Linked DNA regions of Homo sapiens: all the other regions are reported to be linked to region 1. The links are microRNA targets in miRTarBase. Many come from high-throughput screens and were not tested one by one. Region 1 holds a microRNA gene; each other region holds the end of a gene's coding sequence.
What was found. Region 1 holds the annotated microRNA hsa-miR-4676-5p (GAGCCAGUGGUGAGACAGUGA, at 1,521-1,541, opposite strand). A microRNA usually pairs through its seed, bases 2 to 8, with sites in the 3' UTR of a target mRNA and lowers its output. Matches are read on the target gene's strand: a 7mer-m8 pairs with bases 2 to 8, a 7mer-A1 pairs with bases 2 to 7 and ends in A, and an 8mer does both.

Region 2: the mRNA of FAM118A is a reported target of hsa-miR-4676-5p. The part of its 3' UTR that is shown has no 7-base or 8-base seed match.
Region 3: the mRNA of SNRNP48 is a reported target of hsa-miR-4676-5p. Seed matches in the 3' UTR shown: 7mer-m8 at 2,692-2,698 and 7mer-A1 at 2,811-2,817.
Region 4: miRTarBase lists MKLN1 as a target of hsa-miR-4676-5p. Seed matches in the 3' UTR shown: 7mer-A1 at 1,304-1,310 and 7mer-A1 at 20-26.

Annotation. Positions count from the first base shown.
Region 1 is chr10:72,719,579-72,722,578 of GRCh38, reverse strand. MIR4676 (microRNA 4676) reads right to left here and starts at 1,550; the gene lies at 1,479-1,550. The region is part of intron 1 of MCU (mitochondrial calcium uniporter); the gene reads right to left.
Region 2 is chr22:45,339,765-45,343,011 of GRCh38, reverse strand. FAM118A (family with sequence similarity 118 member A) reads right to left here. Exons shown (of 9, transcript NM_017911.4): 9 at 1,057-2,626. The coding sequence ends at 2,607. Among named protein-coding and RNA genes, the nearest start is that of FAM118A, 31 kb to the right of the region's middle.
Region 3 is chr6:7,608,385-7,611,631 of GRCh38, forward strand. It overlaps SNRNP48 (small nuclear ribonucleoprotein U11/U12 subunit 48), which reads left to right. Exons shown (of 9, transcript NM_152551.4): 9 at 441-3,247. The coding sequence ends at 489. Among named protein-coding and RNA genes, the nearest start is that of SNRNP48, 20 kb to the left of the region's middle.
Region 4 is chr7:131,487,036-131,490,282 of GRCh38, reverse strand. It overlaps MKLN1 (muskelin 1), which reads right to left. Exons shown (of 18, transcript NM_013255.5): 18 at 1-2,676. The coding sequence ends at 2,555. Among named protein-coding and RNA genes, the nearest start is that of PODXL, 68 kb to the left of the region's middle.

The DNA.
Region 1 (3,000 bases):
CTCTGGTTACACTAGAATTTTGCTTGTAAAAATAGTTGCATGTTAAAAAAAAAAAAAGAAAGAAAGAAAAAAGTGCCAATAACTACAACTCAATCTTGTTACCTCACTGTAATATTAGCTATGCCTAGACTAAGTCAAGCGGGAGGTTAAAGTTCCTTAATAAAACAGAAAAGAAAAAGAAACAGCTGAGGTTAAGGGGAAAAGGTGGCATCTAGTTCATAAGAAGTCATGTACCTTTTTTTTTTTTTTTTTTTTTTTTTTTGAGATGGAGTTTCACTCTTGTTGCCCAGGCTGGAGTGCAAAGGTGCAATCTCCGCTCACTGCAATCTCTGCCTCCCGGGTTCAAGTGATTCTCCTGCCTCAGCCTCCCAAGTAGCTGGGATTTAAGTGCCCACAGCTTTTTCTAATTATAATAAACAGTATGTTATACTAATCTACACGTTAATATTTATACCAAGAATTCCCTATAAACCCAATTTATCTTCAAATAAAGTGTATAAATTCCATTGTTTCATAACTTAGCACAGATCTTCAAACCCACAATGATGTTACTGTGAGAACAATATACTATCAAATGTACACTTAACCATAAATATTGTTGCATTCCCCATAAGGAGCCTAAGTGGATAGTAATTCAAGTTGCAATTACCAATAAGAGGCCCAAACTGATTTGTTTATATGTATCACAGATATTTTCGTTTCAAACAAAATGAAATGCTTCTTTTTAAGTCTCAACAGCAAATATAACCATTATGCCCACCCACAGATGACATTGCCTAGAAATAGCAGTAATGCATCACTACAGCAAGGCACTAGATGACTACAAAAACACTGTAGTGTATATTAAAATCATCTCAGAACAACCAATAAAATAAAATTTTCATGCAAGGAGATCATGGAAGACCTTACTGAGAATATAATATTTCAGCAGAGACTCAAGAGGGAAAAGAAATAAGAAAACCTGTATATATTCAGGAGAAAAGCATTCTAATGATAGAAAACTGCAGTGCAAAAATCCTATGAGGTAGGTGCATGTTCAGCATGTTTGAGGAATAGCAAGGAGGTCAGTATCACAAAATGGAGTGGGCAAGAGGGAAAGTGGCAGCAGATGGGAGTCAGACGGGGAGCCAAATGTTCAACAGTGATGTGCTGAAGCCGATATTGACTGGGGAGCAGATTGCTGTACATTCTAGAACTTTGAATCAGCCAGAGTGGGAGTAATTATACCAGTAAAACAGGCAAATGCTACAAATCAGAACCTTTTCCCCCTCCAGAGAGCCAGTTTATTGTCACTACCTGTAGGCCCCTTGAAGAACTTTGTCTTTTACTGAGTGAGATCAGAAGCTACTGAATAAGTCTCCTTCTGCCTGATGTCATCATTCCCACTGCTGAATTACGACCAGAGGTAAGAAAGAACAAAAGCAGGGAGACTAATTAGAAAGCTGTTAATATAATCTAGGTGAGATACATTGTTAGCATGAACCAAAGAGCCAGTGGTGAAACAGTGAGAAGTAATCAACTCACTGTCTCACCACTGGCTCTTTCATTCAGGCTCTGGATATAAAGAACTATTCTTACTTGGATCAGTATGTAGCAACAATTACTAAGCTTCCTGTCTAGAAATCAGTATCTAACTCTAACCTAAACATGTCATTCCTGGTTCTGAATTAAGACTGTTAGTTGGATGTATAAAGTACTTCAAGAAGCTCAAATAACCAGGAGTCTTAGATGCACGTTACATATCTTCAGCTATTAAGGGTTCTATTATCATTTCAATTGATCAACATATACATTTGTTGAACATCTATTATAAGACACTGCAGAGAATACAAGTAAAATCTGTAATCCAAGCCCTTTCCTCAAGGAGGTTACAATCTGAAGTTTAAACTAAAGCATCCGTATATAAAAAGATAGATTCAACACAATGGAAGTATAAAATGTGTGGCAGGGCTAAGGAGTATTCTATAAATTGGAAAGGAGAAGGAAGAAGTCACTGAACAGATAGGACTTGAGCTGTGCCTTGAAGGATGGATAGAGTGAGATGATGAGAAAGGAACAAACGGAACAAGTCAGGGCCTAATAGTCAGTGGATCTGCAAAGTGAAAGGGCTAAGAAAAAGGTGGGAATGCACTTGGTGATTAAGGAGTAATCTATTCATGGCATTCAGGAGCATGGGGAGACAGAGGTTACAACTGGGAAGTATGCAGACATATACCTGAATTCCTAATTCCATCACTTACTAGCTTGAGCAAGTTACATAGAACCTTCCTGTCTTTATTTCTTCAGCAGTAGAAATTATAGTACCTACTTTATAGGACTGGTGCACAGAATAAATGAAATAAAATCATGTATGTATGGCATGTCACACAACCTGAAAGTTAGTAAGCAGTCACTGGTTATCAGAAACATTATTGGCCAGGCACAGTGACTCATGCCTGTAATCCCAGGCCATAGTGGAAGGATTGCTTGAGGCTAGGAGTGCAAGACCAGCTGGGCAACCTAGTGAGACCTTGTCTCTCCAAAAAAAAAAATTTAATTAGATGGGCGTAGTATTTTGCACCTGTAATCAGTCCCAGTTACTCAGGAGGCTGAAGTGGGAGGGTCACTTGAGGCCAGGAGCTCAAGACCAGCCTGTGCCACACGGCAAGACTCCCATCTCAATCAATCAACTAATCAATCAATAAAAATGATTGGGAAGTGGCAATGGTTAATGGGCACAAAATAATTAAAAGAATGAATAAGACCTAGAATTGTATAGCACAACAGGGTGACTATAGCCAATAATAATTTAATTGTATATTTTAAAATAACTAAGAGAATATAATTGTATGTTTGTAATATAAAGGATAAATGCCTGAGGTGATTTATCCTCAAGTCACTGGAAAAACCAAAAGTGACAATAAGAAAAATCACAAAAAGAGCTCTGTTTGGGAAGAAAATTCTACATTCTGGTTATGTTAAGTGATACCTTAAAGCCAAAAGAACATGTAAAATACACAC
Region 2 (3,247 bases), not on the chromosome of region 1:
AGGCGTGAGCCACCGCGCTTGGCTGTTCTCTTTCATAACTTTGACTTATAGACTGTCAGTGATCCCACCAAGTTCAGTCATTTCTGATATAACAGAGCATGCCCAGTAACCTAATTTAAGGGCCACAGCACATATTCAGGCTTTGTTGAGATAGTAAGGAGGTTCTTAGCAGGTACTTGTATAACTATTTAAAATGTAACCATTTTATTTTTATTTTTTTTTAGATGGAATTCCCTCTGTCGCCCAGGCTGGAGTGCAGTGGTGCAATCTTGGTTCACTGCAACCTCTGCCTCCTTGGTTCAAGTGATTCTCCTGCCTCAGTCTCCCAAGTAGCTGGGATTACAGGCACACGCCACCACGCCAGGCTAATTTTTGTATTTTTAGTAGAGACAGGGTTTCACCATGTTGGCCAGGCTGGTCTCAAACTCCTGGCCTCAAGTGATCCGCCCCCCTCAGCCTCCCAAAGTGCTGGGATTACAGGTTTGAGCTACCTGCCCTGTCTTAAAATATAACCATTTTAAAATGTAATAGCTACTCTAGCTTGAGGCAGTAAACAGCAGGGCCAACTTTGTTACCTCCTGATGTGATGTTTCTCACGGACTAAACTATACACAAGCAAGTGCACTATGCTGGAATTGCCTTTAATCTATCAATCGGATTGGAATAAACTTTACATTCTACAACGAGCATACAACAGAACTGACTAGATACATCCATGTGGTGCAGCAACATGGCTGTGTCCTCCAGCAGAGCACACAAAGCTTTTCTTAAAAATGGGCTGTAATGAGCTTTACATCCTACTGCATAGCATCCTCTATGCTTGTAATTCTGCTATACCCTGTGTCTGGCCAGCTCTTAGATTCAGATATTCCCTGACTGCACTTACTAAATGACATTAAAGAAAAATTTATAATGTTTGCTTTTTAAAACATTTAAATACATTCAAGTAATCATTTAGTTGATTTCACAGTTGGGTGGCAACTCAAGCTAAAAATTCTCACTAAATAACATTCTAGCAAGCCTTGGCATAACTAAAGAAACACTGAGCACACAGGGTTGAAGTTAAAATTTTATTTATGGCTGGAGTGGCATAAAAGATTTGTTTTCCATGCTTCAAAAAGAAAAAAAAAGTTTTCAGGGCTTCTCTCCCTCCCTATGCATCCTACCCTTCTGTTTCCTGTTCTTAACTTTATCTGTACCTATGGGAGTCATCAATGGGGAGTGTCACAGGGCTTGGCAAGAAATGTCACATTGAAGATAAGTGGCCTCAAACTGAAACCAAGCAGGGCTGTTTGTTTCCAAAGAGAACCCTCCACTGTAGGGCCGCTCATGCACCGCCACAGAAGCCTCTGCCGGGTCACAGTCAGAGAAGCTCCCCGGGCACCGGCAGCACACTCAGCACAGCCGTTTCATGTGGGTGAACCTGAGAAGGTTTAAAGTGTTGCAGGCCCTTTTCAAGTTTTGCCTCCCTCACTCTCTGCAAACTCCCTTAATGTGGGCCATGGAAGAGAATTTTAAGAGACAATAACAGAAAGACTGGATATTACCCCAGAGAATAAAGACTTGCAAAGCCTGGAACTTATAATGTTTGAAACCTGGTCTCTCGAACTTGAGCTATCCCGGTTGTCAGTCCCACAGTGGCCGTGCACAATGTTGGCCTGGACTGAAAAGGGCCTCTGGCTCCTCCGATTTCAGTTCTTAGCAATATCAGACCTGTGTTTCTTTGGAACAGAAGTTACTAAAACAACCTAATTCCAAAGAAGCCCTTTTGATCCAGCTGTTCTCCCTAAAAACATTTTCGCTAGCGGATTCATTCTTTACTATTTAACAGTGGACCTTTAAAACGTACCTTTAAAATGCTTTCTATAGTAACATGTTTCCACATACAAATTATAAAATGTGTTTATTTTGCTGGGCGCAGTGGCTCATGCCTGTAATCCTAGCACTTTGGGAGGCCAAGGCGGGTGGATCACCTGAGGTCAAGAGTTCGAGACCATCCTGGCCAACATGGTGAAACTCCAACTCTACTAAAAATAAAAAAATTAGCTGGGCATGGTGGTGGACGCCTGTAATCCCAGCTACTCGGGAGGCTGAGGCAGGAGAATCACTTGAGCCCAGGCGGTGGTGGCTGCAGTGAGCTTGAGATCGTACCACTGCACTCTGTCCTGGGTGACAGAGTGAGACTCTGACTCAAAAAAAAAAAGTGTCTATTTCGTATTTTCTCTTTGGCAGCTACTGTTGCTTGGACAGTCTTTACTCTTCCCCTTTTATTACGAAAAATACCACCTTGACAAAAGAGAGCCTGTCAGATGGGAACGGGAACACCAGGTCCATCCCTTCCCACGGATTCTGGTCCCTGAGGTAGCTATCCATCAGTCCTTGCAAAGTCCACCTGAAATGTGTCCGCGTCACCCTCCTGCATAGTTCAACACACAGGGGAGCCCTCTCACCCAGCCTTGAGGGCCACATGCCCATGTGGCTCTCTTGGTGTATGTGACGGTTTCGCAATCAGAGATCCACGTGGAGTTCTCCATACATTCCTCTTCGTTTGGGCACTGTGGTTACAGAAGGCTAGTTTTCAAGTTGCAGGTTTTACTGTAAAGATTTCAAGACCCTCCAGCATCATCTGTTTAAATAAAAGAATGAAATGCCCAAGGGTTAAAGTCCAGCTAAAAGAAGTTATTTGCAATAGATTTCTATTTCAGAAACTGCTTTACAATTGTTCTTATGTACGGAAGACTTTGAAAACCCCTCCACAATGGAAACAGTAGCCACTGTCTGGAAATGACCTTGTGTAATTATCAGTACTATCAGGGGATCAAGCAAATGATGACATTACATTTGCAACGATCTGTGGGAATCTCAATCCATGAACATGGATGCTCTTTTATTTCTTAGTGGACTGAGGATGGGGCAATTTCAACAAACATACAGTGAGAGCCTGTTGGAGGTATGGAGAAGAATAAGCCTGTCGATTCCTCTGGGATCCCCAGGCTTGGCTTCTCTCACCCACATGCAGGACAGGCCAGGGCTTTCTGTACAACAGAGGCCAGGAGCTTCGCCCTAAGGAGACATGACTGGGTGGGGAGAGCCGGGGCTGCAGGTGCAGGTGATGGCGTCTAGGAGCACAGATCTCACAGGTATTGAAGAAAACCCCTGCCCAATGCTCCACAGCAAGGTCTACCAGGCAGTAGGCCCTACCCGCGATGTGCACACCAGTCAGAGGTAGGCCACGGGGGGACAAAAT
Region 3 (3,247 bases), not on the chromosome of region 1:
TGACTCTACTAAAAATACAAAAAATAGCCAGGTGTGGTGGTTCGCGCCTGAAATCCAGCTGCTTGGGAGGCTGAGGCAGGAATCGCTTGAATCCGGGAGGCGAAGGTTGCAGTGAGCCAAGATCGTGCCATTTGCGCTCCAGCCTGGGCAACAAGAGTGAAACTCCATCTCAAAAAAACAGAAACAAACAAATAAAAAAACTAAGAGACGAAACTGAAATAGGAATAATCAAAGTGATTTTTTTTTAATTACGCTTTGAAATTCTGCTTTAAAATTAACTTTGAGTATATGTAAATGATAACCAGAAAATTCTTTTCAAATAGAATGTTAAAGTAGCATATTACTGTTGAAAGTGGTGTATTACTGTTGAATTATTTTAAAGCTCTGATATTAAAATGTCCATCATTTATAACCATTTTTTTATACCTCTTTTATTTCAGGGATGGGGAAAGACACCATAGTCATAAAAGAAGAAAGCAAAAAATATAAATGAAGTACTTGTACCTATATTAATTATGCTTACGCCATGATAACCAATATACAGATATATTAATTGGAATTCCTTTGCATAGGAGAATGTTTTTATGATCTGTTTAGTGCTTATTATTTTTTTTATGATCTGTTTAGTGCTTATTATTTTCCAGTAAATATGCTTCAAACCATGAGTACACTATTAGGCCCTACAACTTTGTTTTCCTTATATTTTATTAGATGATTTGCTTCCTATAACTGATGTTGTTTTGTTCGTTTTGCTAATATATGTATCTCAAAATTCTTTAAGTCAATATTTATCATATGTAAATTAAACATGAATACATTCTCATCTTATAACTACATCTTATAAATAAGGCTAATAACCCTTAGAACACCACCTGCGGTTCTGTCCTCACCCCAGTGGTGACTACTGTTTACCACTACACTGGTGAATTGTAGTAGGGAAAAACAATCTAAATATTGAAGAGGAATGGCCTAATTAAAATATGATGTAGTCATAGGATAGATTATTGTATTGGAGTTAAAAGAAATAATCTAGATCCATATTAACCTGGATTGGTCTCAAAAACATAATGCTCAGTGAAAATAGCAAGTTGTAGAAAGTTATATACAAATTATATATATGTACAAAACAATACTATGCATTCTCTATGGCTATATAATGTACGTAAATCTATTTTTAAAGGTTCAGAGGAATCCATACCAAAGTTCTAACAGCGAGTAGGAGGTATAGATGAGAGATTAGGGGTGCAAATCAGGATTGGGAGGGTGGTCAGAGGGAACTTTAGCTTTATCCATAACATTAATTTTTTTAAAAAATAAGGTCTTAATGTTTCATTTAATTTAAAATATACTGTCATGTTGTGTTTTGTAAATCAACTGAATTGAGGTACTATTTACTTAGATTTATTGCACCCTTTTTACGTGTGTATTTTATTGGGTTTTGACAGATTCATACCTCTGTGCAGCCACTATCACGATCAAGATACAAATATTTTCATTGCCCCCAAAATTCTCATACCCCCTTTCCCAATCAATTCCTCTACCCCTAGCCCTAGGCAGCCACAGATTTGCTTTTGGTTACCGATTAGATCTATCCATTGTAGAATTCATGTAAATAGAATACTGTAGTATGTACTTTGCCTTCTTCCTCTCTGCAGATTTTTGAGATTGATCCCTGTGTGTCAGTTGTGCATTTTTTTTGTTGCTGAGTAGTATGTTCTATCTTATGTCAGATCATTCACGTGAGACTTTGGCATGAAATGTTAAGCATCCGACATCTAAATAGCAATATTTTGAATACTGGAAACTCAGGTTAAAGATTTTGTTTCCAAGTAGAAATGAAATCTTATTATTTTAATAAGTAGCTGACAGTGACAGAAAGATTGGATTTGGATCAGATTGGCTGTTAGGCTTCAGGTATGGGAAACAGCTCTCAGATTTATAAATTGGAAATCACCAGGTTACTTGCCAATATATAGTCATATTGCTGCCATTGTACTTAATTTCTAAATATATAAAATCCACATTTAAAAATTATAAAAGCAAGGACTTGGGAGTGACTGATGAATCATGAAATTGCTGCTTTTATAGATCAAAACTACTTGAATCATCAGGAATTTCATATTTTTCATATTGTGTGACAACTTATAATTTTGTTTCAAATTGTGATTTCATTGATTTTACTAACTGGAAGGAAGAAGAGTAAAATTGGCATATTTAGGTTTTTTGTAGAAGAAAGATACAAGTGAAAATTAGGAGTGGATTGGAGAAATTGGGGGGAAATAGAAGAGTACGGAGAAAGGAAGAGATTGAAAATGTTACCAGAGTTCTTTAAAGCTCACATTTTATAGTATCACTGCTACAAACTATTTAATGAAATGTGGCATCGGGTGAAAAGAGGCATTTGTTTGATCCTTGAACGAATTAATCTCACGTACTTCCCTGTTTGTGGTTTGAGCCTTTCACTGGATGTGAGCTACTTGAGAGCAGGGTTTATGCCTTCATCAGCGTGACCCCTGTGCCTGCAGCCTCATAGGTGTTAATCTGTAATTTTAAATTTTGACAAAAGCATTTTCACAGCCCTGCCACATAAGATCTAGTTTTTATTTCTAGAGTGCTGCTATGAATAATTACTATAGCTGCTGTCCATCTTGCCCATCCATTAAGGTACCTTCTCACAAACATTTCTAATCTACTGGCTGGAGTGCAGTGGTGCAGTCTGTAGCTCACTGCAGCCTCAAACTCCTAGGCTCAGGCGATCCTCTTGCCCTGGCCTCCCATGTAGCTGCAACTATAGGTGTGTGCCACTACACCTGGCTAATGTTTTTAGTTTTTTAGAGATGGAGTCTTGCTCTGTTGCCTAGGCTGGTCTTGAACTCCTGGGCTCAGATGATCCTCCTGTCCTCAGCCTCCCAAAATGCTGGGAGCCACCAGGCACCAGGTGTGATCTACCACACCTGTCTAAAAAGTATGTATTTTTAAATTTTTTTGTAGAGACAGGATCTCACTATGTTCTCCAGCTGGTCTCAAGCTCCTGGCCTCGGCCTCCTAAAGTGCTGGGATTACAAGTGTGAGCCACTGTGCCTAGTCACTTTAATTGAGATATTGGCAAGTCAACTGCCATGCAGAGCCCAGGGCACTGGTTATATTCAGTAGGAAACTGAACTCAGCACTCAGAATTTTAAATTAAATCAATGATCTTCAAGTATTTGCCACTTTCGAGTACAGCTAATTGGATAATCTCAAACCC
Region 4 (3,247 bases), not on the chromosome of region 1:
ATTTATGTGTCTAAAGTGTTAGCCAGGTGTTTCAATTAGGGATTCACCTAGGCTAGAATAATTGTTAGGTAGTAAAGCATATACACTTGGCTATATAAACAATGTACCTAAATACCAAATTCGATTATTTAAATTATAATCTATGCTGGAATTCTTGGAAATACATGTAGCTCCTCACTAAATTGTGACATGTTGTGAGCAACATGTCAATCTTGGTCATGGATATATGAAGCACTACATTCTCTGCAATCATTTCCAGCAGTGCTCCGATTAAAGCCCCACAGTACAGAGTCTGACTTTTCAATTATCTCCTCAGTACATCTATCTCACTTTGGCAAGAGCAAATGGCTCGCTATGATTCAACCCCATTTAAACATGGCGGTGAGCAAAAAATTTCAGAAATGAAGGGGGAAAAATTCTACCTAAATAAAGTGAGGGAAGATGAAATTAAAACAAACATGTTTTCCAAAAAGACTAGTAGGGAAACATTTAGGGAAAAACAAAAATAAAATTACTGAGGTCAAGAACTTAGTTTCCTCCAAATAACATTTAAGGAACTGATGAAAAAAATTACAAAGCACTGTAAAAATAAATGGTGGAGGGCAGCAGAATTTCACTTGCTTAATCTTTTTAAAGTGCCAGAATTCACACTAAGCAAAACTAGAGCTTTTAAATTTAGGAAGTCTTATTTAGCAAGCTCAAGTTCTTCCTTGTCAATCTTCTGATTTGCACCTGTCTCCACAAAAGATTTAACAGGCTATATTAGTGATATTAACATTTTATGTTCTTGTGTCACTCAGGGGAATCGTTTTATGAAACTGTTGAAGTATGTAAGCAAACTGTATTTACTTGACTGGATAGCCACTTGGTTATTCTGCAGCTACACAAGTTGGTACTTGCTGAATTATATAGCATACCTTTCACAAGTAAAGGTACAGATCAAATTGCTTAAGAAATCACTGTTGACTGCTTTGGGATGCTAGGAAAGCCAAGGAGCCCATGATTCAAGCCTAGAACTAGCAAAAATATATTTCTATCCATCCCCAAAATAAGTAAAACCATGTACTAAAGACAGAATAAAGTGGGACCTCAATGTTTCATTCCTATACATGGTACTTTTTGAAAGTGCAGGTTAATTTCTTCTTTGGTGAGGCCTAATCTTGCTACTCAGGGACATACTTGATTCCATAAAGCTATTCACTCTTAAGAGCCACTGGATCGACCGACACTTCTTAATATGAATCTGCTTTAGCATGGTGGCAGTCAGCTTCATACAACATGCTTTTTGAGCAAATGTAAGCACTAGCCAGATGTAGGTTTCCCACATTGCATTCCACAGCACATCATCAGAAGACATGTACCTCTATCTCTCACACAAAAAATTTGACCCATGGAAAAGTCCATCTGCCATACCTTGTTTTTTAATGAAAAAATATCTGAACCATTCACAAAGTCTGGTCTATGTGCTTAATGAAATGCCTGTCAGTTGTATACCACTGGACAACCACAAACCATTTCTCTTCAAAATAACAATATCCACAAGCAGATATAGAGAGACAATGTGTATAAAAATAAATGAAAGCAAAGCTCTGGAAACTCAGCCTCCTCTCTCAAATGAAAATACTACAGAGATAGCACAAGATAAACGGGAGCCCTGGTTCTGCAGAGCTCTTCTGGACGAAAGAGTCATTTTCTCCTAAAATTGCTATTAAGATATTATTCACTACTAGATCCCTCCTGCTGGTCACTTTTAGAATGGCTCTTAAAAAGGTTCTGAACTATTGTCTCCTCAGTTTAAGGTTTCTGTGACTCAAAGTCAGATGCTATTGTAATATCTACTATAAAATATATCATTATAGAAATATTATATACCAATCTCAGATAGGTGCTTGGGTCAATCTCAGGTTTCATTTTTAGTTCTATGGCCAAGAGTGCAAACTTGAGACCTCAGTTCTGCCTACTGTTTAATGTAACACAAGACAAGTCAATACAGACACAGATATCACCTTAACATACATCAACTGTCCTAGAGAACTATACACTTGTTAAGAATGAAGTAAAGAGGTGAACAAGTGACACCATTTACACGCAGTTGTGTGATGGGAGGCAAAGTGAAATAGGAAGGGAAAAGGCAGGCCAAATGACCAACAGCAACAACATTCAAAATACTTGTAGTGCTGAATCTGTTAATAGTGCTTATTTCCCCCAATTAAAAAAAAAAGAAATAAAAATCTGAAAAGGGTAAACTGCCTAATTTTTCTTTTATACTCATTAATTCTTAAAAGATAAAGTAAGAAAAAATATATATATATATATATTTAACTGGAAAGTATACCAATTTCACTTTATTAGCCTAATTTAGGAATAGGATGAGGAGAGCGGGGTTGAGGTCAGGCATGAAGGAAGAGGGTAAAAACTTGTGATGGTTAAGATCCCTTCAGAACTCTGGTGCAGTCCTCAATCACTGCAGCTTTACTGTCAGTCAGTGGAGCTGCAATCCAAAAGACGGAAAATCGACTCCTGTTTTCCATTTCTGTGTCCAGTGACTCTTCAGTTACAGTGTGATGAGGTCTACCAGGTTGCCTTTAGGAGGAGTCATGCTGTCAGGAAAGAAATTTACTAAGGTGTCAAAGAGCTGAGTTCTTTGAGCATAGGTGTGATCCACATCAGAAAAGCCTGGTGAAGAAGATACAAAGAAACATCCATTGTGTTTAAAACATGTAACAGAAAAACTAGTTGAGACCAGCAGCAATGTATTTTATAATGGAGAAATCAAATCAGGCTTCAAAACCAGGCAGACACTACTGATCTGACCCCAGTTCTACTACCTGGCTGTGGTGTGATCTTAGATAAATTAGTCAGACTTTCTGGCTTTCAGACTTTGCTTCCTCAGCTGTAAGTATGTGATAATCCTGTTTACTTCATACAGTTATTGTGCAGATTAAATGTAGTTACATGAAAAGCGTCTAGCAGAAGGACTGGCACTTTAGTTACAAATAATACTGATCTCTCTTTTTTTCCTTATTAGGTCTTTTCTCTGCTGGTCCACTGAGGAAATTCCACTTGTCTTTTCTGACTTGTTAATGCTTCTGAACCACTAAAAAAGTTTTTTAGTAACAAAAATATAATAAAATCAAAATGAAAGAGGTCTTTAGAAATTAGTCTAAAATCATTAATGTCTCTGAGACAGCTGGAAGTAGTCTCAGGGAACTGAGTGGTAACAGAGACGACTGAGGGAGATACATGT